Regions from separate parts of the Homo sapiens genome. Here regions 1, 3 and 4 are each linked to region 2. Evidence: fine-mapped expression QTL. A gene starts in region 2. Each other region holds a variant in brackets. All regions are shown on one strand. Distances are from middle to middle.

Region 1 (8,000 bases), 30 kb after region 2:
GGTCCCTCAGGCCAAGGCCCAGGGAACTCCTTCCCCAGGGAACTCGGGCCAGCATCCAGCTGAGGCTGTGACCTGCTGCGGCCTAGCCTCCATGTCACCGCTCTGTCCTGGAGAGGGTTCTCCCTCCCTGCCACCCTGCTGGACCCACCATAGCCTGGCACCAGCAGGGCCTCCTGAGCACTTCCCACATGCCCCCTGGCACCTCCAATCCGACGACACCCCAAGCAGTCCCGCTGAGGTCCCAACACCCCTCATCACCTGGTCCCAGCACCATCCAGGCCTCACCCTGCTCCCAACGTGGCCCTGCTTCCTCACGCCCCTTCCTCCTTCGCAGACCCAACAGGCCCCCATGGCTGCACAGCTGCCCACTGCTCTGCTTCCCGGCTGCCTCTTCTCATAGGCACCTAAGCTCTGGAGGACCCCAGGCTCAGAGCTCTGGCCCGAGGCCTGCCCTAGTGATGGCCTCCCAGCCTGGCCTCCCCACCTCAGCCCAGCATTTCCTGCACCTCAGTGTCTGCACACGCATACCTATCTCACAGGCATCTCTGATTTTATGCACCCAAGGCTAAGCGCTGGCTCTTCCGCCCTCTCTGCCGCAGGCACATCCTCTCCACCCCAGGCTGCTCTCTACCTCCACAGCCACCACGGGGGACTCCTCAGCCGCTCCTTGGGAGGCACCAGGCCAGGATCTTGCAGGGGTCCAGCCAGCTCCAAGTCCACCTATCCCTCCCACCCAACGCTTGTTTCAAGCCACACCTGCCACAGGACAGGGCGGGGCTCGGCTGGGGGGGTACAAAAGTGAAGCAACACATAGTCCCCGCGTCAGGAAGCTGGATTCTGCCACAGGACAGGGCAGGGCTCGGCTCGGGGGCACAGAAGTGAAGCAATACACAGCCCCTGCGTCAGGAAGCCGGATTGGTGGAAGGGGAGATGTTTACAATCATCCCTGTAACCCACAAGCCCACGGCCAGACCCTATGAGCGTGACACCAAGCATGACATCGAGCCTCCTTGAACATCTCGACCTCAGCCCCAAGCAAATTCCACAAAGATTAACGACAGAGATGTTTAAAAAAATGCAGCAGTGCTGGAAGCAACTCTCAGCAGATGTTTTTCTAAAAGAAGGCCATTTTAAGCATAGCATAAAATCCAGAAATCATAAAAGACTGGTGAGTGTTAAAAATTGATATGGCTAAAGAAACCACAGACAGAATTAGGCCAGGCGCGGTGGCTCACGCCTGTAATCCCAGCACTTTGGGAGGCCGAGGTGGGCAGATCACGAGGTCAGGAGATCGAGACTGTCCTGGCTAACACGGTGAAACCCCGTCTCTACTAAAAATACAAAAAATTAGCTGGGCATGGTGGCGGGCGCCTGTAGTCCCAGCTACTCGGGAGCCTGAGGCAGGAGAATGGCTTGAACCCGGGAGGCGGAGGTTGCAGTGAGCCGAGATCGCGCCACTGCATTCCAGCCTGGGCAACAGAGCGAGACTCCATCTCAAAAAAAAAAAAAAAAAAAAAAAAAAAGAAACAGACAGAATTAAACAAAAATAGATGCGTGGTGTGAGACCCATCCATGGTGTGCCCAGTGGGGACTCAGCAGGAACTTTCCAGGAGCTGAAAAGTTCTGTTCCGTGAGCTGGTGCTGCCCACAGGCAACTTCGAAGTTTACGCCGAATACAAGTGTCCCTCGGTATCAGCGGGAGATGGGTTCTGGACTCCCCATGGATACCAGAATCCACAGATGCTCAAGTCCCTGATGTAAAAAGGTGTAGTAGCCAGGCATGGCAGCAGCTCACACCTGTAATCCCAGTACTTTGGGAGGCCAAGGCAGGAGGATCCCTTGATTCCATTTCCATGTGAGCACAGGAGTTTAAGACCAGCCTGGCCAACAATGCTTGTGAATAGGCAGTTCACAAAAGAAAAGGTGCAAATAGTCAACAACTCTAGGAGATGTGCTCAGCTTAATTAATAATCAAAGAATTCAGGCCAGGCGCGGTGGCTCACACCTGTAACCCCAGCACTGAGGCTGAGGCAGGTGGCTTACTTGAGGTCAGGAGTTCAAGACCAGCCTGGCCAACATGGGGAAACCCTATCTCTACTAAAAATACAAAAATTAGCCAGGTGTGGTGGCGCACACATGTAATCCCAGCTACTCGGCGGACAGAGGCAGGAGAATTGCTTGAACCCAGGAGGCAGAGGTTGCAATGAGCTGAGATCATGCCACTGCACTCCAGCCTGGGTGACAGAGCGAGACAGAGCGAGACTTCGTCTCAAAAAAAAAAAAAGGAAGAAAAGAAAACATTGGTGTAAAGCTTCATGACTTGGATTAGACAATGGCTTCTTAAATATGGCACCAAAAGCACAAGCAACCAAGGAAAAAGATAGATAAACTGGAGTCATAATAATTAAAATTAAAATGTACGTGCTTCAAAGGACACCACCGGCCAGGTGAGGTGGCTCACGCTGTAATCCCAGCACTGTGGAGGCTGAGGCCAGGAGTTTGAGACCAGCCTGGCCAATATGGCGAAGCCCCATCTCTACTAAAAATACAAAAATTAGCCAGGTGTGGTGGCAGACGCCTGTAGTCCCAGCTACTCGGGAGCCTGAGGTACAAGAGTCACTTGAACCTGCTCCAGCCTGGGTGACAGAGCAAAACTCCATCTCAAAAAAAAAAAAAAAAAAGACACCAGCAAGCAAATAAAAAGGCAGACCACAGAAACAGAAAATGTTTGCAAATCATATTTCTGATAAAGGACTGGCATCTAGAATATATAAAGAACACTTACAACTCAAAAATACCAAAAGGTAAATTCTAAAATGGACAAAGGATTGAAATACACATTTCTCAAAAGATATAAAAAATGGCCAACAATCACACCAAAGTGTTCAACGTCATTAGCCATCAGGAAATGCAAATCAAACCACAATGAGATTCCACTCGACACCCACTAGGATTGGATGTCTGCAATCAAAGAGTCAGATAATAACAAGTGTTGGTGAGGATGTGAGGAAATTGGAAACCTCGCACCCGGCTGTTACTGGGCATGCAGAATGGCACGCCCGCTTTAGGAAGCAATCTGGCAGTTCTTCAAAATGGTTAAATATAGAATTACCACACAGCTGAGCAATTCCACTCCTAGGTATCTACCCAGCAGAAATAAAAAACATACGACCACACAAAAACGTGTATGCAAACGTCCATAGCAGCCTCACTCATAACAGCCAAAAGGTGGAAACAACCCACTATCCGTCAACTGATAAACGCATAAGCAAAAGTGGGCACTTCCACACCACGGAACCGACTCCAGCGGGGGGAGGGTGAGGTGCTGATGGCGCGGCGATGTGAGCAGCCCTGACAGCGTCCCGGCAAGTCGAAGAGGCCAGACCCAGGGCCAGTACAGGCCAATCCATAACCATTCCTGTCTGCCTGAGCCCCTCAGCCCCCCCATTCTCCCTGTCCCCCATCCAGGGCAGATTCCTCTGGGGCTGAGGCTACTGCAGCCTGTGGCAGGAGAGCTCTGGGCACCCTATGGGAGAGGCCTCCGTGCTGAGGGCTGTGGGCTGGTGACTTAGACAGTCGGCCCAGCTGCCAAGAGGTGTCCAGTCGCCCAGCCCCCCAAGCCTGGCCTGTGACAGCTCATAGAGGCTGGGCCGTCCTGCCACACCATGGGAGCCTGGAGAGAGACCTGGGGTGGGTGTGGCAGGGCGGGGACAGTTCTAGGAGAGAGTTGTGGCAATGCAGGTGAGTGGAGGTGAGGCGGTCAGTGAAGAAAGAAAGAGCGGCCCAGCAGCAGTCCAGCGTTGTGGGCAGGGGCCTGTCCTGGGGGTCAGGGCATGAGTGCAGGCCGGGGAGTGGGGAGTGGGGCCAGCCGGGGGCCTGGGCAGCTGGGGATAGAGACTTTAGGTTGTCAT[G/C]TTAGGGATGGGAGTGGGGCTTAGGGGTGCTGTGAGGTGGTCCTGGAGAGGGCAGCAGGGGTGAGAATGAGGCCGGGGTGAGTACCGTTGGTGAGTGGGTGGCGTTGGTGTGGGGCAGGGGCCAGGGGTGGGAGGCCTGCATTGGTCTGGGGGAAAAGCGGGCCTGGAGAGGGGCTGGGTGTGTTGGGTCTCCACAGGGCGTGTGCCCAGCCTGTGGCCTGCACTCTCTTCAGGACCCCTTGCCAGCCCTGGGCCTGCCCAGTGCCACTGTGCCTGGCCCCCTCCTCATGTGTCCCCTACTCTCCCCTGTCCTGGACTCTGAGCTTGGTTATCTGTGTCCCTGGCACTGGCCCCAGGCCCTCAGCCAGCACTGCAGGGTGTTTGCACGGGTGAGTGGGTGATGGCGTAGGGCGTCATCTGCAGTGGTTGGTGCTCAGCTGGCAGAGGGCAGGCTGGAGGTTATTTGGGGCTCACTGGAGAGGAATTTTGGTCGGTGTTTACTGTCAAAAGTAAAACGCTCCAAAAAAAAAAAAAATCAAGCAGGGTGGAAGTATACAAAGAAAAACGGGGAGAGTCACACCTCTGGGTTCAGGCTCCCGGCTGGGGCGATCGCTGTGCATGAGAGAGGGCGGGAGAGAGCACACGGATTTGGCCGCCCCTTTACAGGGAGCTCAGACTGAGATTTCCTCTGGAGCCACTGGCTTTTCATGTCAGTACCAATTAGGTTGACCTCATGCTGATTATTAGTATTTTTTAATAGCTTTATTGAGAGGTAATTCACATGCCACACCATTCACCCATTCAAAGCGTCCAATTCAGTGGTTTCAGTAGATTCGGAGTTGTGTAGCTGTCAATTCCAGGATATTTTCTCACCCAGCCCCTGGCAACACCGCTCTCTTTTCAGTTATGGACTGGCCGCCTCACCTCCACTCACCTGCATTGCCACAACTCTCTCCTAGAACTGTCCCCGCCCTGCCACACCCACCCCAGGTCTCTCTCCAGGCTCCCATGGTGCGGCAGAACGGCCCAGCCTCTATGAGCTGTCACAGGCCAGGCTTGGGGCGCTGGGCGACTGGACACCTCTTGGCAGCTGGGCCGACTGTCTAAGTCACCAGCCCACAGCCCTCAGCACGGAGGCCTCTCCCACAGGGTGCCCAGAGCTCTCCCGCCACAGGCTGCAGTAGCCTCAGCCCCAGAGGAATCTGCCCTGGATGGGGGACAGGGAGAATGGGGGGGCTGAGGGGCTCAGGCAGACAGGAAGTTGGCGATGTTCCAAGCGGAGCAGTGGCCGCCTGACTGTACAGGGAAGACCGGGGATTTCCAGGGGAGAGCCAGGGAATGACGTGTCCAGGGGAGGGTCTGAGACGTTGTGGGGTGGGGGGTGAAGGTCACCGGAGTGAGGGTCAGACAGGGAGTTGTCTGTGAGAGGGCACAGTGAGGTGGAACCGAGGCAATGCCACAGAGGGGAGGAGGCCAGGAGGCCTAAGCCAGAGCACCTCCTCAGTGCAGGGATCAGCTGGGCAGGGGGCACAGGCCTGGCCTCCCTGCCCTCCTCAGAACCACCAAATGCTGAGCTGGGCCCAGGACAGGGGCCCGCAGCTGCTTACCATGGAGGGATTTGGGGCTGCCTTGCCGTCACTGGCTGGCTGGCAAGGGGTGCCATGCCCTCCCACAGTCCCTCCACCCCAGGGACAGGAAGGGCCGGGGCTCCAGCCCTCTAGCAGGTCCAAGGGGCTCACAGAGGTCAGGCCTGGAAAGGTGTAGGGCACAGGGGCCACCTCTGACCTCCTGCAGGCCCTCCTCAGCCTTGGTCCGTGGCTCCCAGACACAGGTACCAGCCCAGCCCCTCCCGTCCCCTTGTCTCAAGCCAGGAGCTAAGGAGACTTGGGGTACCTGGTGTGCTCACGGAGCCTCAGCACCTGCCTTGCTGTTTAGCCACTCTCAGGCCAGTGCCACACACATGCGGGCAGCTGCACCATCACGTGACAACTCCACTTCAGGCAAGCCCCCCGGCCCCCCTGCCCCCTCACCAGCCTCCACCACCAAGCCCAGAAGGCAGACAATGGGCCAAGACTGCGAGTGTGCCCAACACCAATCCTGGCCTCCAGAGGAGCTGCGCTTGGGAGGGAGGACCCTGACAGAGGGTCCCAGCAACCTCCAGGGATCTGTCTGGCTCACCCCTGGATGAATCAGAAGTAGTTCCCACCCCAGGAGGTAGAGGAAAGACAGCCCTGGGGCCAGGAAAGCCTCAGCACAATGCCCAGAACAGGCTGGGGCACCCCAGGCAGCCCAGCAACCTGACCAGATGAAGAACTCCAGGAGGAAACGATCCTGCACAGTTCCCGCACTTTGAACAGAGTGGTCAGCTCAGAAACAGCTCTGTCCTGGGGCTTGCCAGGAGGGCTGGAGCCCAGGTGGGCGGCTGCTTCCCTGCCCTATACCCCAGCACCCCTCCGGGTGCTCCCTCTAAGGCAGGGCCGGCCATGTAGAGCATGAGCAACAGGCTGCCCGCTCCAGGCCTCCCCAAGGGTGCAGGAGTGTCTCCCCTGGCCCGAATGAACTAGTCACACAGGCAAAGCGGCTGGGCACAGCACTGTCAAAGAGAGCCACAGCAGTACATCCACCCTGCCCCAGAGCCGTCGCTGGAGGACGCCTGAAGGAGATGAGTTCGGGGCACCATGAAACCTACCCAGCTGGGCAAGGTTGTGGTGGAGAGCGGCACCACGGGGCCCCAGCAGGACCTCTCTCCCTGAGCTGCCCTTGGGGGCAGAGCCAGCAAAACCAGCCACGTGGAGCTGGAGTCTGCTCTGATCGGCTCTGCCTGGGGGCCCCCACCGCGACCCTCCCCAGCAGCTCAGTCCCTTGCTCCTAAGCCTCTGCAGGCCGGCAGCCAATGCTGTGTCCACAACCGCCTGGAGCCGGGCGACCCAGGCTGAGCCAGGCAGCTGGGCTGCAAGAATGGCCGGTGGGACCAGGACCTGGGAGGGTCCAGGGGCTCCCCGTGGGCGTGGACTAGGGCAAGGGGGTCTGCCGAGGCATCAAGCAGGTGGGCAGGCCACTCTGATGCTCCCCTAGAGAGGAAGGAGGGGCCACCCTGACCCCTAGCCCACAGCTGTCCCCTAGTGAACAGAGAAGGGGTGTGGGGGGGGTGCCCTGCCAAGGAAGGGTGGCAGCCCAGGCCCTCGCCAGTTTAGGGAGGTGAGGAGAGGCGGCAACTATGTGACCCATTGCCAGGCGGCGGAGCTGCCCCTGTTCCATGCAGACGCGCCCCAGAGGTGGGGCAGGGGATGGCTCAGCCTTGACCCATGTGTCTGCTGGCCACAGACACCGGATCCTGGCTCAGACAGCCGACCCCGACAAGCCCTGAGCGCCCCCACCCGCCCGCGGCCCACCCCACCCACCCGAGCCGCGCGATGCCCTATTAAGGGCATGGCCTCGGGGGCTCAGCGGAGCGAGTCCTCCCCTTCCCTAGGCACTGGCAGCCGTTGGGGGCGATCCAGGCGGACGAGGCCGGCGGAGTGGCCGCGCTCGGGCCGGCGATCGGGACCGCCACCGTGGACGACAAGGTGCTCGGCGGCTGGGCTGTCAGGAGCGGCCCGACAGGCAGCGGGACGGGGGGCCGTACCTTTGTACTTCTCGCGCACCTCCTCGTAGGCCTGGATGAAGTCCTGCTCGTCGGGCAGCGGGCCGGCCATGCCGGCGGGCGCGGGGCGCGGGGTGCAGCGGAGCCTCCAGCACCCGGCGGCCACTCTGTCCCCGCGGCCGCGCGCGCCGCTTAAAGAGGCCGCCCCCGCCCCGCCCCCGCCCCGCCCCCGCACCCAGGATGCCCCACGGGCGGGGCGGGGCCGGGGCCGCCGCGGCCGGGCAGAGGGAGCCGCGTCTGGGCCCCTCCCGGCGGGCCGGTTCCGCGGGCTCCGAGTCCCGCACGCACGCCCTTTCCCGTTCTCGCCCGGGTCGCGGCCGCCGACACCGCGGTCGCCCGGGGGTCCTCGGGTGGCCCCCGCCCAGGGGCGGCCGCGACCTGTCTGTTCCCCGCCGGGCCGGCGACCTGCCTCCGAGACGCTCCCCTGCCCGCCCCCCACCTTGCTT
Region 2 (8,000 bases):
CCCCCAGCCCACAGCCCCCTGCCCCCGGGGCCATGTACTTGTGCCGGTGGATGATGGCATTGAAGAGGCGGCCGTCTCTCCAGCTGGAGGTGAAGTTGTCGCATCGCAGGCCCTGGTACCCCTCCACCATTCGCTGCGACCACAGCAGCAGCTTCTCCTTGGCCGTCATGTCCTCCGACTGCCCACTCACCTGGATATCTGAGATCTGCTCACAGCAGAGAGGAGGCCACAGCTCAGCCACAGCCACCAGGCCTGCTCTGTGCCCACAGCCACATGCACAGGGGCAGGGGTAGCTCAGCACCCAGGGGGAGTGCATGGGGCCACCAAACCAGCCAGGGCAGCACCGGGCTCCAGGGCCCTTCCCTGTTGGGAAGCTGCTGGGACTGGCCATGCCTCGGGGCCACAAGTCCAGCCACTCCAGCCGGTGGCAGCTGCCACCACGCAGCTCAGAACCCCCAACCCTCACTGCCACCACACAGCAGGTGCCCACTCCCCTAGCTGGGGAGGGCTAGGCTGCACCCTGCACCTCCCGGAGCTGGGATGGAGCAGAGTGGAAGGGCAGTGGGCATAAGAGGAACCCACAAGTGTACCACTAAACCTGGCCCAGAACCCCCAGGCCTGGAAAAGGCTGGGGGTCGAGCTCCATCGATGGTTGCAGGCTGGCAGGTGGGGCCTCTGGCAGCCTGGCTTTACACTCAGTGGCATGCTCAGGCCAGGTTCTGCCCACCCACCCCTAGCTGCCTGTCGTCCTGCCAGCCTGTGTGACTCAGCTGCCGTGCCAGCACCAGGCTCTGCCTGCTCAGCTCTCAGATTTGTGGTTTCCTGTGCAGCCAGGACAAGCAGCGGGTGAGTCAGCCTGTGCTGCGCAGAAGCCTCCCCAGGGCAGGCACCGGGGCCTGCATTCCTCCACAGGGAGGCTCTGGGCCCTGCCCAGCCAGGGCCAGAGGGCACGGATAGGTGGCCTCAGAGAGAGGCCTGTACCCTCAGGCCACAGATCCAGTCCAGGGTTGCGGCTGGCAGGAAGGCACCCAGGTGCCACCATACCTACGGCGCCAGTCACCTCCCAGGCCACGCCCTAGCCAGAAAGCGGATCAACCCGCCAGCCAAGGAGCCCAGGCTACCCTGGAAACTCCTGCAGGGGGTGGGGGTCCTGGGGGCAGCCGTTCTACCTGGAAGTGCAGAATGATTGTCCAGATGAGGCCAAGGGTCAGCTTGGGGTTGCCGTCAGCGATGTCATCATTCCTGATGTTCACCAGCTTCACCTGTGAGCGAGGGGCTCTCGGTCACGGCCCACAGGGCGGGGCTGGCTTGGTGAGGGGTCTGGGTGGGGCCCAGGGCCTGCCGGGCAGCCTTACCTGGCGGTGCCGGAGGTAGTCCAGGGCAATCTGGACATTCTGCAGCTTGTGGAAACGCATCCTCCCCTTCTCCCGGGGCTGTGGGGAGGCACAGTCAGCACCCACAGTGCAGCTGCAGCTCCCGGGCCCCACCCTCAGCATGCCCCAAAGCGCCGCAGCAACCGAGCCAAGGGTCTTCCCCAGGGGGCAGCAGCCCCTCATCCCAGGTTCACCCTCCCCCGCAGGGAAAGGGAGGCCACCGGCCCAGGGGCCAGGCCAGGCCCATCAGGGCTCGGGAAGTCCAGCGACCCAGGCTGAGGGAAGGAAGGAAGGGGTGGGAGGAGACAATAGCCAGGAAGCCTCGTGTGGAGGGCAGTGGCACTAAAGGGGGGGTCCTCCTGCCTGGCGGTGGCAGCCACAGCAGCCACCGGTGGGTCCCAGGCCAGCTCTGGGCAGCACGGTGGACGGGCAGCTTGACACCCAACCACCTACCCGCCCAAGAGCCAGGCAGGGGTTGGCCGACGGGCCACCAGCCCCCAGAAAGCCGGGCTCCACGGTCTTGGGGAGCTCCCGTGCCGCTGCAGCCGGCAGGCACAGCCACTCACCAGGCGTGAGCTCCTGCTTACGTCCCGCTCCCTCGGCTGCCCGGCCAGAGCAGGGCAAAGGGTAAAGGGCAGAGGTCAAGGTTCAGAGTCCAAGCAGCAGAGAAACCAAAGCAAAGCGGAGCATGAGGTTACTGTGTCCCGACGCGGAGGGCGGCAAGGCCCAGAGCAGCCGAGGTCCGAGGGTTGCGGCCACTCCCAGGCCAGGCCCTCGGCTGTGATGCCCAGCAGCCTGGGCGGGAGGTGCTGCCAGGGACGAGGCCAGCCTGCCCCCAGGGAGAAGGCAGGAGGGGTTGAGCTGGATTCCAAGTAGAGTGGGCGGCCGGAGAGGCCCCAAGGAGGGAAGGCAGGCAGAGGTCTCCAGGTGGGGCAGGCGGGGCCCGGAGGGGGCAGGGGCACACGTACCAGGCTGTCCCCCGAGAGGACCTCCAGCAGGGAGATGAGGTTGTGGCCATCGCGGAGGTCTTCATACAGGTCACTGATGTGCCTCTGGGCCTGTGGGGACAGCAGCGGCTGAGGTGGCCAGTCCCCCAGAGCCACCAATAGGCCCTGAGTGGCTGATCTACAGAGTGGGTGCTGGTCCCAGAGGGAAGGAGGCGGGGGCTGAGTCTCCCGGGAGCCCACGGAACACACCCTGCCCCACGGAGGCACCTACCTCTGCCCGCCAGTGCTGCAAGGAGAGACCAGGAAAGACCAGAAGGAAGAGGAGGAAGAGAGAGGCAGGAGCAGGCGTAGGGAAGAAAGAGGACAGAAAATAACAGGTTTCAGAGATGAAAGGTGAGCACACAGGCAGCATGGGGACAGCCTTGGGCGGCAGGGGCCACCCTCCCTCAGCGCCTCCCACAGCCTCAGCCCCTGTGACACGCACCAGCATGCGCCACCAACCTTGATGAGGTGCTTGTTGACCCACTTGGTGAAGGTTTTCTTCTGCACACGATCCCGCTCATCTGGGGGAGACAAGACCAGCTTACCTGGGGCCTGGGAGAAGCCCCGGGGGCCCTCAGGTGACCACCGTGCAGACACAGCAGCCTGGCTGGCCAGGTCCTGCCTGGGGAGCCCCAAAGCCTCCCTCAGATCACACACTGAGACCCAGGCGCCCTCACCCGCAGCCCAGCCACACAGCAGAGACCCAGGTGCCAGGGGCCCAGGCGCCACCAGGTGCAGCCACCCCACCCCGGACTCTTCCCCCGAGGAAATGGGAGGGTCCTGGGCGCACCCTGAGCCCAGGGCACACAAGTCCCGTCCTGCAGTCCCCCCCGGCCTCTACAGACTGAGACCCAAGCAGGGGTGTGGCAGAGCCAGGGCCCGGGCCCGCTGGGGTGTTGGAAGGGAAGCCGCGTGTGCTGCTGACAGGGCAGCGAACCTTCCCCAGAGCGCAGAGTTCCTCGCCCTTCCAGGCCCGACATCTGACGCTCGGAGGCCCCCGTCAGCCTCGCGGGCGCCTGTCGGCCCACTCCGTGTTGGGTGGGGATGGCTGGCCCCCGACCCCCATCTCCAAGACCAGCCCCCCAGCGGTGCCAAGGCTTTCCTGCCACAGGAAGTGGGCCTTCCTCCCGCAGGGGCCCGCCCTGCCTGGCGGGGGTGCCCGAGGGGAGCCCTGCTACCTTTCTTGCCCTCAGAGGCCCTGAGCACAGCCAGGTACAGGTTGTCCTCCGAGCTGGTTCTCTTTCGGCCCAGGCCCTCGGGCTGCGGCACGCGGAGCTGGTGCTGAGACATGCTGCCCCCACACCTTCGTCGCCCGGACCCTCGGCCTCAGGCACGGTGCTCTGGGCAGCCCCGTGTGGCACACAGGCAGCTGAAGGCTGGCGGCCCCACGAGACGCTCACTCGGCACAGGCTCAGCTCAGAGCCCCAGTCGGTGCGGCCACTCCCTGCCTGCTGTACTCCCCGGCGAGGCCGGCCCGCCCCCGAGGCCCCACCCTGCCCAGGCCGCCGCCAGGGAGGGGAGTGTCCCGGCGGGAAGGAGCAAGCAGCCCCCTCCCCCACAGACACGCCCTCGGCCCGCCAGAAACAGGAAACCGGGGTTTCCTCACCCACCCCGACCACTGCAGCCCCCTAGGGGGACCTGGGGACACGGGGAGCTGGCACTTCACTGCACACCAAATGGTGCCAGGACCGCAGAGGAACACAGGCCGTCCCCACAGCCACCCAGAAGGACCCCCCAACAGACTGAAGGGCTCCCCCGACGGGAGGGGCTCTGAGGCCACGCCTCTCTTTGGAGCTCCCTCCAGGCCTGGGCCAGGCCCTGCTTCAGCCTCTGCCCACCCACCCTGCCAGGGCGGACTCAAGAAGCCGCTGATACCTGGCGAGGGGAGGGGACCTGCTGCCTGTCAGCTCTTGCAGCCCCCCAATCACACCTCTTCACAGACCTGCATGAAGCGGGGAGCACACCCTGCCCCATGGTGCCTGCCCTGGCCCTGGGGCCAGTGGGGTCCCACCCCAGGCCTGGCCCCTCCCAAGCTGCCCACCTGGCACATCCTGGAGCAGTGCCCACCTGCGGAGCCCACCCTGCCCCAGGCAGACACCTCACGTCGGAGGCGCGTAGCTGAGGGCTGACTCACGGAGGCCGGGCCTCATGGGGGAATGGAGCATCGGGAAGCCCCAGGAGGGGCCTCGCCAGTGAGTCAGGGATGGGGAGGGGGCCCAAGCCTGTGACTCACAGAGGGGAAGCCACACCTGAGGCAGGACCTGGGCGACCCCAGGGGTGGGGGGTGCTGTTTGCAGCTGGGTGGGGCTCAAGGGAAGCAGTCTCATGCTGTAAAGGGCAAAGGGCAAAGGGCCTGCGCTGGCTGGGGCCTCCGGCTCCCTGGGGTCCGGGGCGGAGCTGCCTCTGGCCAGCTTCTGGGCCTGCCCAGCCCACCCGACCACCATAGGAAAGAATGCGCTGCCCCAACCACAAGAATGTTCCAGCCGCACATCAGGCAGATTCGGTCCAGCTGGGAGCTGCACTCGGCCTCAGTTCTGGGAAGAGCTCACCCCACCTCATTCCTACTGCCCCTGAGGCCGTGAGGGGGCACCAGAACCCTCACAATGGGGGGTGCCCAAACCCCTCAGAGGTGGGGAAGCCCCCACTCCACGCCAAGGGGCACAGCCAGCCCCTAGGGCTCTGCCACATCGTACACGCCGCCCAACGAAGACACCCCTTGGTCTCCATGCATGGTCTCTGAGCCTGGCATGAGATTCAGGGTGACCCTCTTGCTCTGCCTGTCCGGCCCAGCAGCCTCCAGAACCTCAGGAGTCACCAGAAGCCCCCAAATCAAAATCTGACCCCGCACTGGTCAGCACCTCCAGTCTTGTGCCCAAGGGCACCCCGGACCCCACACCTCTGCCGCCCCTCCCTGGGTCCAAAGCCTCTGGAAACACTGTCGCCTCTTCAGAAGCCCTGGGCCAGCAGCTACCCTGAGGCCAAGCCCCGCGCCTGCTGGGTATGGGCTCTGGGGGCCCGGCCGTGACCAGGTGGCTCCTGCCTGCAGGAACGGGGCTGCCACTCTGCTGAGGCACAGTGTGAGATCCCGGAACAGCCAGGGAGGTGGGCACAGGGAGTCCACGACAGCTGGAAACTGGGAGCCGGGGCCAAGGTCCAGGACCCACGTGGAGCCCACCCCAGCCAGGCCCCTGTTCCAGCCTTCTCCCTGCCACTAACAGGCCTCCAAAGATGCCGCCCTGGGCCGGGCCAGGGTCAGGAATGGGGCAGGGGCTCAGGGAAGGGAAGGGGCACGGTGGGGACTCCAGACACGGACTCGGGCAAGGCTGGGACCGGGTGAGGAGAAGGGCTGGGGCGGGGCAGGGCTGGGACCAGGTGGGCTGGGGGCTCGGTCAGGGGCCTCCACCTCCCAAGCCTGGCTCAAGCTCCCCTTCCCTACTTCCTGCCTCTGGGTGCCTCTTTGCTCTGAGCTCTTCCCTCCTCATCACCTCCCCTCCCTCCCAGCCCAGCCTGCCCCGCCCCATCCAATCCTATTCTGACCCTAAAACCAACAGACACACCCGCCCCACCCAGCCAGGCTACACCCACCCTCTACAGCTGCAGCTCAGCTGGCTCTCCCACCTGGGACGCACCCAGAACACCCCCAGCTCAGGTGCCTCTGCACACCTGCCTGACACCTGTGCTGTCCAGGGCTGCTGACCCTCGGCCGCCAGCCCAGGGTCCCTCACGACAGGCACTGCCGTGGCCCTCTGAGGAGTATCGCCCCCGTTTTACAGGTGTGGACCCTATGGCTGAGGTCCCGCAGCTAGTGGAGACGGTCCTAGGATGGAAACCCCAAGACTGGGAAGGGAATCCCACTGGCCCAGGACTGCAGCAAGTCCACAGAAGGCCTGGAGCCCCGCCTTCAGCACCTCCTCCCTCCCCCGTGTCCTGGAAACCCAGGCCAAAGCCCAGGCTGACGTGGAACAGCCGGGGGTGGGCCAGCCCCGCCCCCTCCAGCCCCGCCCCCTCCAGCCCCTTCTCTAGAGACAAACAAATGGGGGTAGGGGAACATCACCCCGCCTTCCTCCCCAGGTGTTTCCGGAGCTCGGGGGCAAGGCTGCACCGGGCCAAGGCGCCACCCCCATCCCAGCCCAGGCGGCGGTTCCCAGCAGAGACCCAGCCCCACTAGGTGAGAGCGATGGTGGCCCCTTCTGTGCCACCGGCCACGCCACTGCACCCACCTACGCAGCACAGCTGCTGGTAGAGGTAGCCCCTGCGGGCCGGCTCGCAGCCCCCGTCCAGCCAGCACGGCCGCTCCAGCAAGACCTCCCTCGGCGAGGCAAAGGCGCCCCCCGCCCCCGACATGCCGGCCACGGCCGGAGCCCTGGTTCGGCCCACGGACAGTGCGGGGAGCTGGACCGCGGCGGCGCCTCTGCTTCCAGCCCACGCTGCGAGGCTGCCGGCTTCGCTCTCCACCTCTTCCACCTCCCCCCCACAATCCGCCCACTGCGGGAGCGAGGCCCAGACCCAAAGAACCTGCCCCTGGCGCGCAGCCCCGCCCAGCGCAGCCAGGAAGCCGCGCCCCAACCCACGGGCCGGGCTGGGAGGCTGCCCTGGGACTGAAGCGGCATGGGAGGGGGCCTCCCAGCAGGATGTGCGGTGGGGACTGCAGGGCCCAGGGAGGAAGGCAGGGCATGGGGCCAGGTGGTGGGCAGACAACGCTGGAGGCAGAACCGAGGAGCTGAGCCGCGTCTGGCACCACCAGGGAGTAGAGGCATCCTGTGAGCCAGGACCGTGGCCGAAGGGGGCAATTGTGGGCTGAGGTGGGGAGGCAGGGACAGTGTCTGGTCCCCAGCCAAAAACATGGATGGGGAAGAAGCCCTCAGCCCAAGTCCCATCCTGGCAGCTGAGTCCCCGGCAGCTCCGGGCGTCCCCAGCGCCACGCCTAGAAGCCCCATCTTGACTCATCTCAAGTCCGGGGATCCAGCAGAGGAGCTGAGCCAGGCAGCGCCCTCACTGCAGGAGAGGTCTGGCCAGCCAGGTCCCCGATAGGCAGTCCCTCTGGCCAGAAGCCCATAATTGAGGCTGCCCAATCCCCAGGGCCCCGCCCCATCCTGTGCTGGGCACGGTTGCCACCTGGGACCACAGCCCAGGAGCTGGTGACTTTGAGCAGGGAGGGCAGGGCACAGCCTGGCTGCCCCCGCCCCCTGTGCGGCCCGAGGGCATGAGGGCACCTGCCTCACCTGCGTGTGGCTCCACCCCCTGCTGTGTGTGCAGGGAGCCACCTCCACCTCAGTGCTGGCCGGACAGGCACCTGCCCACTTGTCCCTGCCACGGCGGCTGCCACAGGCCTCCCTTCGTGTGGGGGACGCTCCTGCCCTGCCGGCCTCCGCTTCCACCCACCTGTCCCGCACAGGCTGCAGGCTGAGGGCCACTGCAGAGCCCGCCCCGCCCTGGGACTGCAGCAGGGTCAGGGTCTACACTGCAGGGTGGGGTGGAGGGGCAACACTGCTTTCACTGACATTCAGCTTGGAAACAGGAAGGGGAGGGCGCAGGGAATGAAGGGGCGGGAGGCAGGCGGCCCCTCTGCCCCGCCTCGAGTCCCTGGCAGCCACCAGCGGGGCTTACCTTGCTCGTCCTGCGCCCACCGACGTCCCCT
Region 3 (8,000 bases), 510 kb before region 2:
GGAGCTGCAGGCCTCTCCCCCCCCTGCTCCCCGCGGGCGGCGGTCCCGGCGGGGGCGGGGGGGCGCCGGCGCGGGGCGGCGGCGCCGAGGGGCGCAGGGAAAAGTTTCACGTGGTCAACTCCGGGGCGGCGCGCTAGGGGCACCGCTGGCCAGGTGTCTCGGGCGACCCCGGGCCCGCGTCGCCGCCTCCTCCCCGCGGCCGCCGCCTCGGGCTGCTCCGGGACCGCTCCCGCGCCCCACCCGCGCCGCCGGCCGGCCCCGCCTCCCACGGCTAAACGCGAAGCCGCGCGCGCCCCTTTATAGAGCCGGGTGCCTGGGCCCGCCTCCCCGGGAGGGGCGCGCGCCCCCGGGCCAATCGGAGCCCCAGCCCCGCCGCCCTCATTTGCTTATCCCCATGGCAACTCAGAGCCCAGCTGTCAATCTCCTGCGGGAAACAGCTGTGGGAAGAGGTAGGGACGGGCCGCCGGCTAGAGGAGAGGGCAGGGCCCTCTGGTGGCCATCACGGGGCACTGCACGGGCAGAGGGCGCGCCGCCTCAGGGGACAACTGCCGTCTCCAGGGGCCTCAGCTCCCACACCCGGCGGCCGGAGAGTCCGGGGAAGCAGACGGGGACCGCGCCCGGGGACCCCCTCGGGGCCTCGTCCGCCTCGGGCCACGCGGCGGGACGCCCCCTCGGCCCCCTGGGTTTGCGGCCGGGCCTGGGGGCCGGGGGCAGCTCCGCTAGCGGCGGCGGCGGCGGCAGCGGGACCTCCGGGCCTCTGGACACGGGTGACACCGCGCGGCCCGGCAGAGCGCGGCGCGCTGAGCCGGTTATTTTTAGCCCGCGGCTCAGACGCGTTCAGGAATTTGGTCAACAAAGTTGCCGGCACCTCCGGGCACCGGGAAGCACGGGGCGGGCGGAGGGGGACACACGCGTGCGGGGCGGCGCGAGGGGCCGGGGACGGAGGGCCGGCTTGTGGGGGGCCGCGGAGAGCGCAGGACTGTGGGGGTCGCGGGACAACGCGGGTGGGTGCGAGCGGCGGGGGCGGGGCCCACGGGCTGGCAGCCCCTCAGGGCGTTAGGAATCCCCGCCCAAGCGGCCACCACTGCCCACTTTCGCCCCCCGCAGGGCTGGAGGCGCCTTGCTGGGCCTGGAGTGGGACGGGGGGTAACTGAGACGGGAAGGCGGGGATTTCCACCTGGCGGCCGTGCACCTGCTGGGAGGAGACGGCTCCGGTTCACGGGGCAAAGGAGGTGACGATGGGCGGTGGGCCTGTGACCCCAGGTCCCCGACACCAGCGAGCCGGGTGATGGGAGGGTTGCGCCAGGAGTTACAAGGCCGGTGACCCGAAGTGGGCCTATTGTTTCTTCTCGAAATTCTCTCCATTGCTGTTCTATGACTTCAGCAATTTAAAAAAAAAAAAAAAAAGTCTAAAATGTAACCACCTGTGTAGAGAAAAAAAGCCTGGAAGGAGTTGCGCAGAGGCCACAGGGAGGCCTGGTCACGGCGCCGCAGATTTAGTACCAGGCTCTCACCTCCTTCCCTCTACAAAGATCTATTGTTTTGTAACAAGAAGACTGTCATGAAGTGAGGACTGAACATCTGCTTCCTAAGGTGTCTCGGGGTGTCCCTGGCCCTTCCCTGGGCCCTCCCACTCCTCTGGGCAGAGCTGGGACTGCTGATTTGGGAAGACCAGGCCTTCCTCCCCGCAAGGGAGGGCCAAGGACAGCATGAGGACCCACCTGCAGGGACCCCTCTCCCCCGATCCTGTCCCAGAGGGGGCTCTGAGCTCCCCACCCTTCTACAGATGAAGAAATGAAGTGGGCATGCAGCAGAGCCAAGTCCCCACACTGGGTACCTGGACTTGAGACCACACGAGTGGTCAGCCAGCCAGGGGTGTGGGGTTTCCTTTATGGCACCCCGTGTTGAGAGGGAGGCCCGGGAAGGGAGGATGCCGCCGCGCAGTGGAGCTGGTGGTAGTCCAGGTTGTCTGCACCTGCAGCCCCAGGAGAGGCCTTGGGGCTACAGGGCCCTCCCACGGCCCCTCCAAGGGTCTAGCAGCATTTCTGGGTACCACACCCTGGAGGCCCTGGGGCACACTGGAAAGGGGGTTGAGGAGGAAAGAGAGAGTGTTTGCACCGGGCTGTGTCCCCACTGTCCCCCCCTCCCGCCCATCGCACTGTGGCTCCTGCCAGGCCAAGGAGACCAGGAGAGGGTGTTTGGTCACCAGCCCAGGAGGACTCCAGCACACCCGTGGGAATGAAGGAGACGCCTGACCCCAGGCTGTTGCAGTGGGAACCTTCCCCGGGGCCACAGCTGTGACCTCAGGCTGAGGGACGCTGACCCCACAGCCATGCTTGGACTCAGTGGCACCCCCATCCCGCCACCACCCACAGGAAGCCTAAGTGCCTCATCTTGCTCTGAGAGGTGGGAGAAGGTGGTGGAGGCTGGGGTGGCCTCAAAGATTGACCCCAACCCATCCGCCCCAAGCCTGCCAAGCCCTCCTTGAGGCTTGGTGCTGTCACCACCAAGCCAGGATGGCTCCCTAGAATTCGCCTGTGCTCCGCTGTTCCCTGGGCTCCCAGAAGCGCTTTCCCTTCCCGCCAGCCTCCCAACCCAAGGGCTTCTCACACCCTCCAAACTTTCAGCATTTGGTCCTCACAGAATTCTGCAGGGGCAGTCTGTGTGGCTGGGTAACTCAATGCACCCAACAGGCTTCTCTTGAGCACCTAGAGTACGTCAGCCAGCCTGCCTAGGGGGCACATCCCATCAGGGAGGTGGCCAGGGTCCCTTGTTGAGAAGCCCCCTGGAGCTTGATGGCACAAGTATTATTTCATCCATGGGCTCTGTAAGGGGGAGATGTGTCCTGGGAATAGGGGCACAGCTTGCCTCTGGTCCTGACAGCTGGGAGGACTTGGGGGTTGGGGTAACGGGACAGCTGATGGATGGTGCCACTGGGCAGGGTCTTCACACCCAGGCCTGGCAGATGGTGAGAGCTGTCGGCCAAAACAGCTGCTTGTGACACCTCCACAGGGCTGCTCCCTGCAGCTGGTTGGGCTTCCTCACAGCATGGCTGCTGGTTCCCAGTGTGTGCATCCGAGGAAGGTGGAGGGGTGCATGTGCCTCAGAACACTGCACCATGCTGGTGGTCCTCGTGTGTAGAGGTCGGCCACCCCCCTGGGCAGGGGTACGGACACTGCCTGTGTAGGTCATGTGAGGAAGGGGCCTGTGGGCTGAGATGCACTGTTGTAGTGTTTTTGGAAAATACAGTCTGCCGAGTGGGCCTCAGAGAACAGAAAATCAGCCATAAAAATAGTAAGTAAAATGAGGCCGGACACAGTGGCTCATGCCTGTAATCCCAGCACTTTGGGAGGCCGAGGTGGGCAGATCACAAGGTCAGGATTTTGAGACCAGCCTGGCCAACCTGGCAAGAGCCCGTCTCTACTTAAAAAATACAAAAATTAGCCGGGCGTGGTGGTGCACACCTGTGGTCCCAGCTACTTGGGAGGCTGAGGCAGGAGAATCGCTTGAACCCGGGAGGCGGAGGTTGCAGTGAGCCGAGATCACGCCAGTGCACTTCAGCCTGGCCAACAGAGTGATTCTGTCTCAAATAATAATAATGAGTAAAATGATAGTGGATTTGCCTTCTATTGCTGTCTCACCAATTACCACACGTTTAGTAACTTAACACACATTTATGGTCTTGTGGCTTCTGTGAGCCAGGTGTCCAGGCAGGGCTTAGCAGGAGCCCCCGTCCAGGGTGCAGTCTAGGAGGTGGCCGGGCTACAGTTTCAACGTGGGACGAGAAGGGCTGTGCCACCAGGCATCGTCAGGCTGTTGGCAGAATTATTTCCTTAAATCTGTACAACTGAGGACCGGCTTCTTGCTGGCTGGAGGCTGGAGGCCACCCTGAGCTCCTCACCAGGTGCAGCCCCAGCACAGGCCCTGACGCCTCGGGCCAGCAGGGAGAGGCTCTCAGCGGGGCGTAAGGTGCCGTGATCACAGCTGCGGCATCTGGCCACCCTCCAGGAGTCTGTCGGAGGAAAGGGGTCACCCAAGGGTGGGAACGCTGGGCAGGGGGGTGCGTCATGAGGCTACCTCAGGGCCTGTCCCCCACACTCGTTTGTGAGAAGGCGGAAGCTTGGCTAGGTGGGGAGTTCTGGGTTGGTGGGGTTGGGGGGCCTCACAGACACCTGAGCAGATGGAGGGGCAAGCCCTTCAGGCCGGGGAGCAGGGAGCCCAGAGCCACTGCCTGGGAGGGGCCTGGAAGGGCCCAGGGTGGCTGGGTCAAGATCAGAGCCCATGGGGGCTGGTGTAGGGCCCAGGAAGTCATCGTGGGCCCCCAGAGGGCTCTGGGTGGAGGGAAACCTGGTACGAGGAGGGACAGGGAGGTTGGGGTGCTCACCAGCTGAACCCCACAGCTCCCTCTGCTGTCCACCATGGGACCCCACGCAGTCTGCTGTCTGC[T/C]GGGGCCCTGAGCTCATGCATTTTACTGCAGGGAGGGGCCTGAGGGGACCCTCCTGGCACGGCTCCTCCACCCCTGCCAGAGCACAGCTGCGCAGGAGGGCTGAGCTAACCCTGCCAGGCCATGCGTGGACCTCCTGAACCTCACCCTGCTGCCCCAAGAGTAAGTGCTCGGAACTGCGTAGAGCCTCGCGTGGGGTCTGGAGTGTCATTTTTGGGGCATGTATTTAGGTGGGAGAACCCCCACACCCCCAGTGCCCGCGTTTGCTGTGCGGAGCTGATCACAGGAGACAGAACCTTCTCCGTCCCGCAGACAGAGGCTCTGCATCTTCTGGGCTAGGGGGCTGCTGGGGCTGCCTCCACCCCCACCCTGCTCCTGCTGCCCGGGCGCCCCTCCTCCACTCAGGGGCTCATTTGCATTTAAAAACGACAACCAAAAAACAAGCCCAGGGCCTCCTGAGAGTCCCTCCTCAGCCTGTCGCTGCTCTGCCCAGGGCCTCCTGAGAGTCCCTCCTCAGCCTGTCGCTGCTCCGCCCCTTCCTTGTGCCCCTACTCAAGCACGGATGGTGCGCCTGCTGTATGCCAGGCGCCAGTCAGGGCACTCGCTCAGCCACTGCACGCCCAAGCTCCCTGCCCTCCCGGAGCTCCCGTGCTGCTGGGCGCTAAGTGAGGCGGGGTCAACGCCCTCAGCCCAGAGGCAGGATGGGCACAGGCCTAGCCCAGGAAGGTGCTGGCGCTCCCGGCGGACCCCCAGACACTCTCCCTTCGGTCACCTCCCAGCCCCCAGGGGCATCCAGGCCAGCATCCGACTGCCCAGCCGGCACCCCTCCAGGCACACAGGGCACAGAACCACACTCTGAAGTCACTGCTGCACCCCTGCTCGCCCATCCACCTCCCGCAGTGGCCCTGGACTCTGCCCACGGCTCCCACCTCTGCGGCCATCACATCTCCCTTATAAGAGACAACAGCGCTAAGACCCATCTGCTTGGCGCTGGGGGGGTGCATCACCTGCCTGGGACCCGGCCGTGCCCCGCCAGGGCTCTGAGGACCCCCCAGGGTGCTGTGTGCTTCCGCTTCAGGGTTTCCATCCGGCTGCCCCAGCACACACCACTCTGCTGCACGCACAGGCTTGGGTGCAGGGTTACGCCCTCCTCTCCTCAGGAAGCCTTCTCCTTCCCTGTTCCGACCACCCCAGCAGGGGACATTCCACCAGGCTGTCCTCAGCTGGGGCCATGGTCAATACAGGGGCAGGGACTCTGCTAGTCCCAGCCTCCCAGGTCCCTTGGCCAGGTGCCCTGGCAGTCACTGGTCTGCTGCCAGCTGCCCCTTGGCATGAGGGGCCTCGTGTGACCAAATGGGCACACTCCATGCAGGGGAAACGCAAGGACTTGAGACCAAGCAGAGCCCAGGCTGCACAAGGTCCCCAGGTGGGGGATTGGGACACCATGGTGGCCCCCTGAAGGCAGTGGCCAGCCTTTTCTGAGTCTTCCTGCTGGCCACTCCTGGGGGGGGCTGCATTTGGGGACAGTGGACCTGGCCCTGAACTGCCATCACACCCCCTTGCCCAAGAGCAGTGCCCTGGGCCTCCGAGTGGCTGTGCCGTGTGTCAGATGGCAGCGCTCACGGTCCCAGACAGGCGCTGGGTGGATGGGGAGCCTATTCCCCAGCCCCCACGGACGTTTCACGTTTCAGGGGCTATGTGCCAGCCGCAGGGTGGCCAAAGGAAGTGGCACCCATGGGTGGGTCCAGCTGCGCACCGGGCCTGCGGCAGACGCTTCCCGGTGGCACAAAGTGAAGTTAGAGGATCTGGCCGCCTCATGCCCAGCCGGTGCCCACCCTCAAATCTGGGGTCCCGAACAAGGACACAAGCCCCTGTGAACACTTGGGTCTGGGTGAGCTGAGCCAGTGTTGGAGGGGACAGAAGCCAGCTGGGCACACCCCACCCACAGCTCTGGCTTCCAGAATCCGCCATCCCACCCGATCCGGCTGGAATCCCAGCAGGGCCAAGGCCACAGGCTGGGTCCCAGGGCCCCAGGGTAGAGGCCACAGCGACGAGCACTGTGGAGAGAACCGGAAACTGCTGCCGTGTCACCCAGCACTCGCTCTGGTGGAACCGTCGCACGAGCCTCACGCCTCGTCCCCTCTGATGCCAACGTCAGGACACCCCACTTCAGGGTGGAGGCCGCGACCTCAAGGGGGCGGAGCATTCTCCCCGCCCGAGTGTGGACCAGGCCAAGGGGCCCCGCGGGGTGTGGGGTGGGCAGTGGCAGTGCCACCCACCCAGAGCCCAGGCAGGCAGAGGGCACAAGGCTCGTGCATCTGACTCCAGGCTGTGCCGTGGGGCCCCTGAAGGTGTTGCTGGCCTGCCTCGCCCAGGGGCCACCCCCCATTTCTTTGGAGGTGAGGAGAGGAGCCTTGCCCCTCCAGGCCTTGCCTCTCCCAATCCAGGGTCTGTGGCACAACCTCAGCCAGGCCTCCTGGTCAGGCCCCTCCAGCACGGGCACCCGTGCAGGGCAGGGGAACCGGGAGCTGGCCGAGCTGCCCCACCCACCATGGCTCTAGCCTGTTGCATCCGGGTCCCCAGAGTGCCCCCTAGGCCTTCCCCACCCCAGATGGTGCTGCTCAGGTCCAGGGAGAAGCGCCTTCTGACTTCTGAACCATCGTGGGAGGTAGGAAAGGGGCCCCATACTCCTGCCCAGAGGGGCGGTGCTTTCCGCCTGGCGGTGGCATGGCAACAGTCAGGACAAGCCAACCAGTTACGGATAGAACCTTTATTGCTGAACATAAAACACCTGCCTGGGAGGCCTGGCCAGTGGCCTCTTCACTGGGCCGAAAACCTGGGTGGGGAGGGCTGGGGGCTGCAGGGCCACTGTTGCCAATGGCAGTCGGGGACAGGCCTGGAGGCCAGCCCTGCCTGGCACCCTGGAAGGTGGTGGGGTGGGGACAGGGGCCTGGCTTGGGGGAGGAAGACCAGGCCCTGCGCACACGCTGGTCATGGAAGGTTGAGGGCCAGGCAGGCAGAGCAGTGTCCCTGTGGCCCCCAGGTGAGGCTTGGTGGCGGGCGGCCCTCCTGTGGGGTAGAGTGGTGGACAGAGCCTCTTTCCTCTCCAAGGATGAGGGTCTGAGGTAGGTGCAGGCCGGTCCCTGGGGTCCTCACAGACGTGGTTTGATGTGCAGAGGCTTCCCTATGCAAAGAGGGCAAAAGTTAGGTGCCCGGAAACCCCTGGAAGAACCTCCCCAGCCTGCAAAGCTCCTGATCGGGCTCAGGATCGGGGGGCTCTGTCAGCCCAAGCACACACAGCAAGGTCTGCAGAGATACCCTCCTGAGTTCGAGGGAGAAGAGCACAGACAGGCCACAGGCTTCAGCTTCTGCCCCCTGCTGCCAACAGGTCCTGGTGAGCCTCTGTGGCTGTCTAGCCATGGTGCAGGCTCAGTCTATGAGGTCAACTGAGGCTTCTGCCTACAGTCCAGGGGTCCTCCTGGGCGGGCGGCAGTCCCGGCCACAAGGTCTGCAGGGTGGGCCATCAGTACTGGTGCACACAGCACCAGACTGCCCT
Region 4 (8,000 bases), 24 kb before region 2:
GGCGTCAGCAACACCGCAGATGCCTAAAGGGTGCATGGGTGATGGCCACCATCTTCCCACTTAATTTGCTGGTCAGGTCCCTACAAGAGCTGGGTAGACTGTGGTGGACGGCGGCTGAGCCACAGCGTCTCCCCACAGTGCCAACTCCAGCTGCTGTGCTGTCTGTGGTCTTTCCTGGAGCAGACTCACAGCCTCAGACGGTGTCCTGTGGCTCCTGGCTGGGCAGAGGGCTCTCCACTGCACCGGGAGGAGGTCAGGGGCAGTTCCCATTCACACGAGGTGGACAGCAGCGCACAGACATGCAGACACACAGACAACTGACCAAAGCGCAAACACGCAAGTCCGCTCACTGACAGCATCGCACCCACCAGGCCTGGCAAGCGGGAAGTGGCAGGCGTTCTGAGCGTCCTGCTAGGACACAGGCACTCCAGGGCAGGAGAGAGGCTGAGCCAAGATTCAGGGACTGGTCACGTCATGAAGGTTTTAGGAGTCCAGAGATCTGGGCATGTTAGGACGTCCTGTCCAAGGTCAAGAACGAGTTTTGAGCCTTGCATTTCCTAACACCAGGAAAGAAGCTGGCAGATGGCAGGCCTCTGGGTTCTGGACACAGCACGATGATGCCAGACACGGCACGATACCAGACACGGCAGGATGATGCCAGACCCAGCACGATGCCAGGCACGGCACGATACCAGACCCAGCACGATACCAGGCCCGGCACGATACCAGACACGGCAGGATGATGCCAGCCCCAGCACGATACCAGACCCGGCACGATACCACACACAGATCTTTTTATCAGTTGGCACAGAGGCTTCTCGTTTTGAGTGGGGCCCAGGAAAAGGAAGGGTAGCACAGCTGGTGAGGCTGTGGAACAAAGTCCTGCCACTCAGGCCCTGTGAGCTAACAGAGCTCTTGTACCAGGAGCACCTGCCGCAGGTGGGGAAGGATGCGTCAAGGGGTCTCCGGCAAGGCCCAAAAGAGCTGCAGCACCAGCCCTAAGTTTTGAAGCAAGGAGGTCCCGACTGCAACAGAGAACTGCGGACTGTTCAGAGAAGTTCCTGGGGATGGTGTGGCCACAGCTCCCACCAGGAGCCAGTGCCACAAGACCCACCCAGGCTAAGGTCAGCGGCACAGTGAGGATCCAGGGTAAGGGGCGGTGCACTGCCGGGCACCAGCCATGAGAGCCAGAGGGCTGCACGGGCAGGTGGCGCAGCTTCCAGCTTGCCCGCCAGTCAGGCCACAGCCTCAGAGGGTCCCTGTGACTGGGTGGGGGCCAAGCCCGGCCTGCTTCATGGCGGTTGGGTTCATGGTAGTCGGACCACTCCACTTGGGCTGGCCCTGGAGTCAGGGGTCGGGGCGATCCCTGGCCTCTCATGAGGAGAGGAGAGCAGCTCATGGTAAGGACACACGTGGACAGGGCTGGGGAAGGGCTCGGCTGGCCGGTCAGGGCCTGAGAAGGGCAACGCTGGAAGACGGACTGGGGAATGGAACTGCCGGGTGGACACCAGCGTGGGGACTTGTGGGTGTTCACCAGGGGCACCGGCTGCCGAGCGGGCACCCAGCCACCCACAAGCCAATGACGCGGCCAGTGACGCAGCGTCCGGTGCTCCCACACGGCTCCCGCCTGGAGCGATGGAGGACCAGACGAAGCCAGGCGCCCCATGACAAGCCCAGCTCCTGTCGGCAGCAGCACATCCCGTCCTCTGGCCATAAAGACCACCAGGGGCCCTGGACGCAAAACCAGCCAGAGACCAACCGGTCACTTGGAGGTAAACTCAGCCCTGGAGGCCCCTTCCCCTTGGAAAGACAACAGCTGGTATTCCAGGCACGGACCCACCTTTCCAGCCCACGATGCCTCCGTGTCTGCCCTGGGAGACGGGCTCCTGTGTAACGGCCCCCAGGGCCTCTGACTGCTTCCGGCAAGGGGGTGCAGAGGGAGCGGGAACACGGGCGCCGCAGAGCCTAGAGCGTCGGCGAGCTTCTCGGAAAGAGTTGGTGCCACCGTCCTGACACCAACCCTCTGGGACTGTGGTGGTCCCGTCCTCCAGGATGTGGTCTTCGGCCTAAATCAGTGGCCCCACAGAGGACCGCATGGGTCTGGGGACCAAGGGGTAGAGGCAGGAGTGGCCGCCCACTCACCAGCTCCCAGTGACCCACTGACAACCTGTGCTTCCTTTCCCTGCAACTCTTAAGCTGTGAGGGCTCAGAGGTCCTAAAACCCAGCCACCTGGGACAGAGTAAGGCACTGCCCCGCTCGATGGCTGTGGGTCACCCGGCCGGGGCCACTCCTGTTCCAGCGGACCAGCAGGCAGAGCACCCTCTACCGGGCCGGGGCAGGGAGGGTAAAGCCCAGCAAGAGCGAGAAGACTAGGACTTGGACCCCAGGGTGAACGCCTGGGTCCCACCAGCAGGAGAGGCGAAGGCCAGGCACAGTGGCTCACGCCTGTAATCCCAGAACTTTGGGAGGCCAAGGCAGGGAGGATCACTTGAGGCCAGGAGTTCGAGACCGGCCTGGCCAACACGGTGAAACCCCATCTCTACTAAAAATATGAAAATTAGCTGGGTGCACACCTGTAGTCCCAGCTACTCGGGAGGCTGAGGCAGTAGAATCATTTGAACATGGGAGGTGGAGACTGCAGTGAGCCGAGATCATGACACTGCACTCCAGCCTGGGTGACAAAGCAAGACTCTGCCTGAAAAAAAAAAAAAAAAAAAAAAGAGTATCGGCTGAGCCTGGACCAGTGGCTACTGCAGGCTGGGGTGGCCCCGCTTCCCTCCTCCCCTAAGTCTTCCCAGAAACTGCCACCAGTCGGAAGCCTGGAGAAGCCCATCCAGATGGAATCCCCGGAGTGTGATGGGCATGGGGCCGAGACATGGCAGACTGTGGTGGAGGCCCTCATACTAGGCCCACTGCCTGTGGCCCCTTCTCTGGAGGGCTGCCCGGCCAGCAGCAACCAACTGACCCGGGGCCATGTGGCACCCTCCCCGGAGGCCAAGGGGCCACAGCCAGTGACTGATATGGGAGCATACCACACCCCGCCTCAGATAAGGAAACGTGAGCCCCTTATAGTGCGAAGGGTGGGGCTGGGAGACTGGTCAGCACCTGACCAGCAGCAGGTCCCAGGGGGCCCGGCCTCAGTGTGGCCACCACCCTGCCCCACACTGAATCCCTCTGCCCAGGGTCTCTCAGCTGCCCTCCTGCGAGCACCTGGTCTCTGCTGCACACAGACGTACGTCCCTGACTGGCCATAGTGGCTGAGCTCAGAGCCTGGAGCCTGGGGCTGCAATGTCCACCCTGTCCCTGACACACACCTGACCCCAAGACACAAGGCCGGAGGCACGGGAAGGTTGGAATTGCTTTTATTGGGGGCGGATACCGCAAGGCCCCGCCCACGGTCAGGTTAGTGTTCTGCCCTTGCAGAGGCGCCAGCAGCCTGACACCTCCACCTGCCACCCGCCCGGGGTTAGTGGAACATGCAAAGCTC[A/G]GAGGGTGGAGGCAGGGGTGGTCGCTGCTGAGACCAGGGCTGGGTGCAACAGGAGGGTCAGCACAGAGCCTGGCTGGTGTCCCTGGGCCCAAAGGGGGCTGGGGCTCCATGGGAGAGAGACGGGCAGGCGGCACCCCAGTGTGGGGCTCCACAAGCTGGAGGGGCCCCTGGACCCACCAGGAGGACAGGTCTGCAGTTCCCAGCCATGCCGGCTGGAACGTCCGCCTCCCCACTGGGTCTGGGTCCTCGGGGCCTGGGGTTAGAGGCCGACATGGAAGGCACTTACTAGGGGAACAGAGGCTGGAGGCTGACGCCGGAGGCCAGGGGTCTCAGGAGTGAGTGTGGGGGGTGAGCTGGAAAGCACAGATCAGACAGCACTGTGGGGGCTGGGCCCGAGGGCCTCGTCTTCCCATGGGGAAGGGGCTTCTCTGGGTAGACTGGGAGAGAGGCTGACTGGGGCCCCCCGTCCCCAGCAAGGCCCACCGTGCAGGCCAGTGCTAGAAACACCAGGGCCCTCTACAGACAGGGTTGGGCCCAGCTGCCCTGTGCAGCTAGGACTGGCAGGCGGGCTACCCTGGGAAGACAGGAGGGTGGGCTGGGGCCCAGCTTGGGACCCTCCAAGGCACCTGGCTGTGTGAGTGGCAGGTAGAAGGGAGTGAGGAGACCCGAGGGGGTGAGGCGGCCAGCAGGGCTGGGCCAGCCCTGTCCCCCAAGATACAGGCTGTCTGGACAGCAGATATATATTAATATATTAGTCTGGTCTTTTTGGTTAAACTTTAGGCACCACTTGGGAGGAAGACACCTTTAAGCGTTGAAAACGGCCCCCGCGCCTCGGTGGGAGCCGGGCTGGGCCGCATGCAGAGCGGGGTGGGCGCAGGCAGCCTCAGGCCACGGCAGACTCAGGGCCCCCCAGGGAGGCCGAGGACCCCGAGGCGTAGCGGCGGCCGTAGCCCGAGGAGGAGTAGGAGGATGAAGAGAAGGTCATGGAGAAGCCGGAGCCGGTGGCGTCAAAGCTGCCGCGGCGGGAGCCGGCCCGGGAGCCGGTGCGCGAGCCGGTGCGGGAGCCAGCGGTAGAGCCGGAGCCGCTGACGCTGTAGGGGCTGTAGTAGCCCTTGGTGGACTGCGCGGCAGCCTCCAGCAGCCGCAGCCCCGTGCCCTCCTCCACCATGCTGCGGTCCAGCGCGTCCTTATAGGAGATCTTGAGCTTGGTCTTAGGGCAGGTGAGGTACTTGGAGTAGGCGCCCACGTCACGCAGCTTCTGTGCGGTGCGGGCGTCCACCGTGCCGCGCTGCAGGGCCTCGTCCAGGGGCACGCGGCCCGGCGTGTCGGGCTCGATCAAGCCGCCGGTCAGGTACTGCACCTCCAGGAAGCGCTGGCCGGCCTCGTAGTAGAGCCAGCCCTTCTTCAGGGCCTGGGCGGCCGACATCTTGGTCTTGGTGCGTGGGTCCTCGAAGCCGCAGAAGGCCTTCTGGGCCAGGTTGATGCGGTCCACCATGATCTTGTCCACCAGGCCCTTGTTGACGGCGTCGGTGACAGGGAAGCGCTCACCGGTGCTGGGGTCGATGATGCCCCCGGTGCAGGCCTGCGCCTCCAGCAGCCGCTGCCCCGTGATGTTATCCACCAGGTTCCGGTGCATGGCCTCGGTGATGGACACCTTCTCCAGCGTCTCCGTGTCCAGGATGCCAGCCACGGGGCCCGTCTCCTCAGTGGGGTCTGACCAGGAGGCCAGCTGGGTCCTGGAGACGGCGGGGCTGATGGGGTAGGAGGAGGAGGATCCCACCGAGGAGGAACGGGAGCGGAAACCACCGGCGTTGCCCGAGAGCATGTCGGCGAACTCGGTGATGGAGAGCGTGCCGGCGCGGTACTGGTCCAGTGCCGAGCGGTCGATGAGGTTCTTGGCGATGGCATCATCGATGTCGTACTGGCGCCCGGAGCGGCGGTCGATGATCATGGACTTGACCACGCCGTCCGAGGAGGAGATGGTGATCTCCTCCCACTCGCACTCCTGCTCGGACAGCTCCAGGTACGTCTGGTGGTCAATCAGGCCCTTGCGGTAGGCCTCGTACACTGACATCTCCTTGCCCGTCTCGGGGTCCACGATGACCACTCGGCGCTTGCGCACGGAGGACTTGGAGGACGTCTTCCGCTCCCGCTTCTTCTCCTTCAGCGGCAAGAGACACAGGCCCGTCTGGGGGTCAGTGATACAACGCTCCATCAGCTGCAGGTAGGTGAGGTTCTCCTCCGTGTTAGGGTCAAAGAAGCCCTTGGTGTCGTCCGAGGGGTCGGTCAGGATCTCGTTCATCTCCTCATCGAAGAGGCCGCGCTTGTAGGCCACCTCCACGGGCAGCCGGTGGCTCTCCTCAGGGTCGATGATGCCGCCCGTGGCGATCTGGGCCTCCAGCAGGCGGATGCCATGGTCCTTCAGGATCAGGCCCTTCTTCATGGCCTGGAAGAGGGAGATGAGCTTCCCAGAGTAGGGGTCCTTGTACCCAGTGACGGCGCGCTCGGCCGACAGCAGCTTGTCCTTGAACTCGGGGCCCACAATGCCCATACGCACAGCCTCCTCCACCGTCAGCTTCAGTCCCTTGATGGGGTCGATGACGTAACCGGTGGCCGCCTGCGCCTCCAGGAGCTCAAAGGCTGTGCCGGGGCGGATGATGCCCTTCTTCATGGCCTGGTACACCGAGAGCCGTTCCTTGGTGGCGTCCACGAAGACACCAGCGATGCAGCTGGTGCCTTCCAGGAACTTCTGCAAGTTCTTGGTGACCTCCTCGATGGAGGTCAGGCCCTCCCGCAGCTGCAGCGCCGTGGCCTCGTCCATGACCTGCGAGCGCACCAGCTCCTCCATGGTGATCTGCTTCCGCAGGCCACGGAAGGTCAGCTTGCGGGCGTCCGACAGTGGCAGGAGCAGCTGGCCGGTGCCGTCGTCACGACGGCACCGCCTGAGCAGCTGCGTGTAGCTGAGGCGCTCGTCGGTGGACGGGTCCACGTAGCTGCGCACCTCGCTGGGCTCTGACAGCTGGTCGTGCGTGTCCTTGTTGAGGTAGCCACGCTGGTAAGCCACCTCCAGGGGAAGGTGGAAGCCCAGGCGGGGGTCCACGATGCCGCCGGTGGCCAGCTGGGCATCCAGCAGCCGCAGGGCCTCCTCAGTAGGGATCAGCTCCTTCTTCATGGCCTGGAAGAGCGAGATGGTCTGCTCGGTGTAGGGGTCACGGTAGCCGGTGACCGCCCGCTCAGCCGAGAGCAGGCGGTCGTGCAGCTCGGGCCCCACGAGGCCCTTCCGCACAGCCTCATCCACAGTCAGCCGCTCCCCCTTCACCGGGTCCAGCAGGAAGCCTGTGGCTGCCTGTGCCTCCAGCAGCAGGCGGGCCACCTCGGCACTCAGCAGCCCTTTCTTGAGAGCCTGGTAGATGCTCAGTGTCTGCCTGGAACCGGGCAGGTAGACACCAGCCACGGAGCCCGTGCCATAGAGGTAGCACCAGGCGGACTCCGCCTCGAGAGCCTCACGGAGGCTCCTGGTGCCCTCCCGGAGCAGGTTGTAGGTCTCGAGAGAGATGATCCGAGCCTCGAACAGGTCCTCAGCCGTGAGGCGGCGGCGCACGTAGTCGTAGGAGGCCAGACCCTGCTGGCGGATGATCTCTGTCTTCTCAATGATCTCGATGATGATGATGATCATGCGTTCCTTGGTCACCCGGCCGGCCTGGAAGTCAGCCATCAGCTGGGCCCGCTGCTCCTCGGGGATCAGGTCCGACTGCATCACCTCCCACAGGGACATGGTGGAGCCGCCGTGGCTGCCGCCGCCGGGAATGTCGATCTGTGTCTCTTCAAATGCCCTTCTTGTCTCCTCCTCAGTGTACACCTGCGTGGTCTCCACCACCTCAGCCTTCTCCGCCCCTTTCAGTGGCAGAAGGCGCAAGCCCGTCTCGGGGTCCTCCACGCACCGCTCCAGCAGCTGCCTGTACGTGAGGTTCTCATGCGTGTTGGGGTCAAAGAAGCCCTTGGTGTCGTCGCTGGGGTCCGCCAGGACGCGGTTCATCTCCTCACTGAAGTAGCCGCGCTGGTAGGCCACGTCCACAGGCACGCGGTGGCTGTGCACGGGGTCGATGATGCCGCCCGTGGCGATCTGGGCCTCCAGCAGGCGGATGCCGTGCTGCCGGAGAACCAGGCCCTTCTGCATGGCCTGGAAGAGGGAGATGGTGCTGCCCGAGTAGGGGTCTCTGTAGCCGGTGACGGCCTTCTCGGCAGACAGCAGCTGCTCGTGAAGCTCGGGGCCCACCACGCCCGCCTTCACGGCCTCGTGGACATACAGGCGCTGGTTCCGCACGGGGTCCACCAGGAAGCCAGTGGCCGCCTGCGCCTCCAGCAGGAGCGCAGCCGTTGTGGCTCTCAGCAGGCCCCGGCGCATGGCCTCGTAGATGGACACCTTCTCCTTGGTGTCCTCCAGGTAGATGCCGGCGAGGCAGCCACTGCCCTGCAGCAGCGTCCGCACGGAGCCCAGCTCCGAAAGGTCCT

Which allele goes with the higher level. Alleles are on the strand shown, and positions count from the first base shown. SD is a standard deviation of normalised expression in the study named. Not every link is listed here.
For the expression in cerebellar hemisphere of the gene that starts at base 3,788 in region 2, A is the high allele of the variant in region 4 and G is the other (moderate effect, 0.51 SD a copy in GTEx).

Evidence for each region. PIP is the estimated chance that this variant, and not a neighbour inherited with it, causes the effect.
Region 1: its variant is fine-mapped to the expression of PLEC in whole blood (TOPMed, PIP above 0.99).
Region 3: its variant is fine-mapped to the expression of PLEC in adrenal gland (GTEx, PIP above 0.99).
Region 4: its variant is fine-mapped to the expression of PLEC in cerebellar hemisphere (GTEx, PIP 0.91).

What each region holds. Positions count from the first base shown.
Region 1 is chr8:143,965,867-143,973,866 of GRCh38, forward strand. It overlaps a transcript of PLEC not described here. Among named protein-coding and RNA genes, the nearest start is that of PARP10, 17 kb to the right of the region's middle. RefSeq lists enhancers at 1-484, 485-1,261, 5,987-6,836, 6,837-7,684 and silencers at 7,418-7,877, 7,888-8,000. The variant G/C (reference allele first, on the strand shown) is at 3,912.
Region 2 is chr8:143,935,810-143,943,809 of GRCh38, forward strand. PLEC (plectin) reads right to left here and starts at 3,788. Exons shown (of 32, transcript NM_201384.3): 1 at 3,541-3,788; 2 at 2,822-2,883; 3 at 2,342-2,431; 4 at 1,356-1,433; 5 at 1,170-1,262; 6 at 39-205. The coding sequence starts at 3,652. RefSeq lists silencers at 3,405-3,504, 3,785-4,014, 6,262-6,351, 6,572-7,031 and enhancers at 3,525-3,764, 4,175-4,234, 4,412-4,706, 7,252-7,501.
Region 3 is chr8:143,430,460-143,438,459 of GRCh38, forward strand. MAFA (MAF bZIP transcription factor A) reads right to left here and starts at 273. Exons shown (of 1, transcript NM_201589.4): 1 at 1-273. It overlaps ZC3H3 (zinc finger CCCH-type containing 3), which reads right to left. Exons shown (of 12, transcript NM_015117.3): 12 at 7,200-7,628. The coding sequence ends at 7,597. RefSeq lists silencers at 190-629, 5,332-5,506 and enhancers at 5,308-6,093, 6,094-6,877. The variant T/C (reference allele first, on the strand shown) is at 4,447.
Region 4 is chr8:143,911,806-143,919,805 of GRCh38, forward strand. PLEC (plectin) reads right to left here. Exons shown (of 32, transcript NM_201384.3): 32 at 3,348-8,000. The coding sequence ends at 4,372. Among named protein-coding and RNA genes, the nearest start is that of PLEC, 24 kb to the right of the region's middle. RefSeq lists a silencer at 4,307-4,502. The variant A/G (reference allele first, on the strand shown) is at 3,489.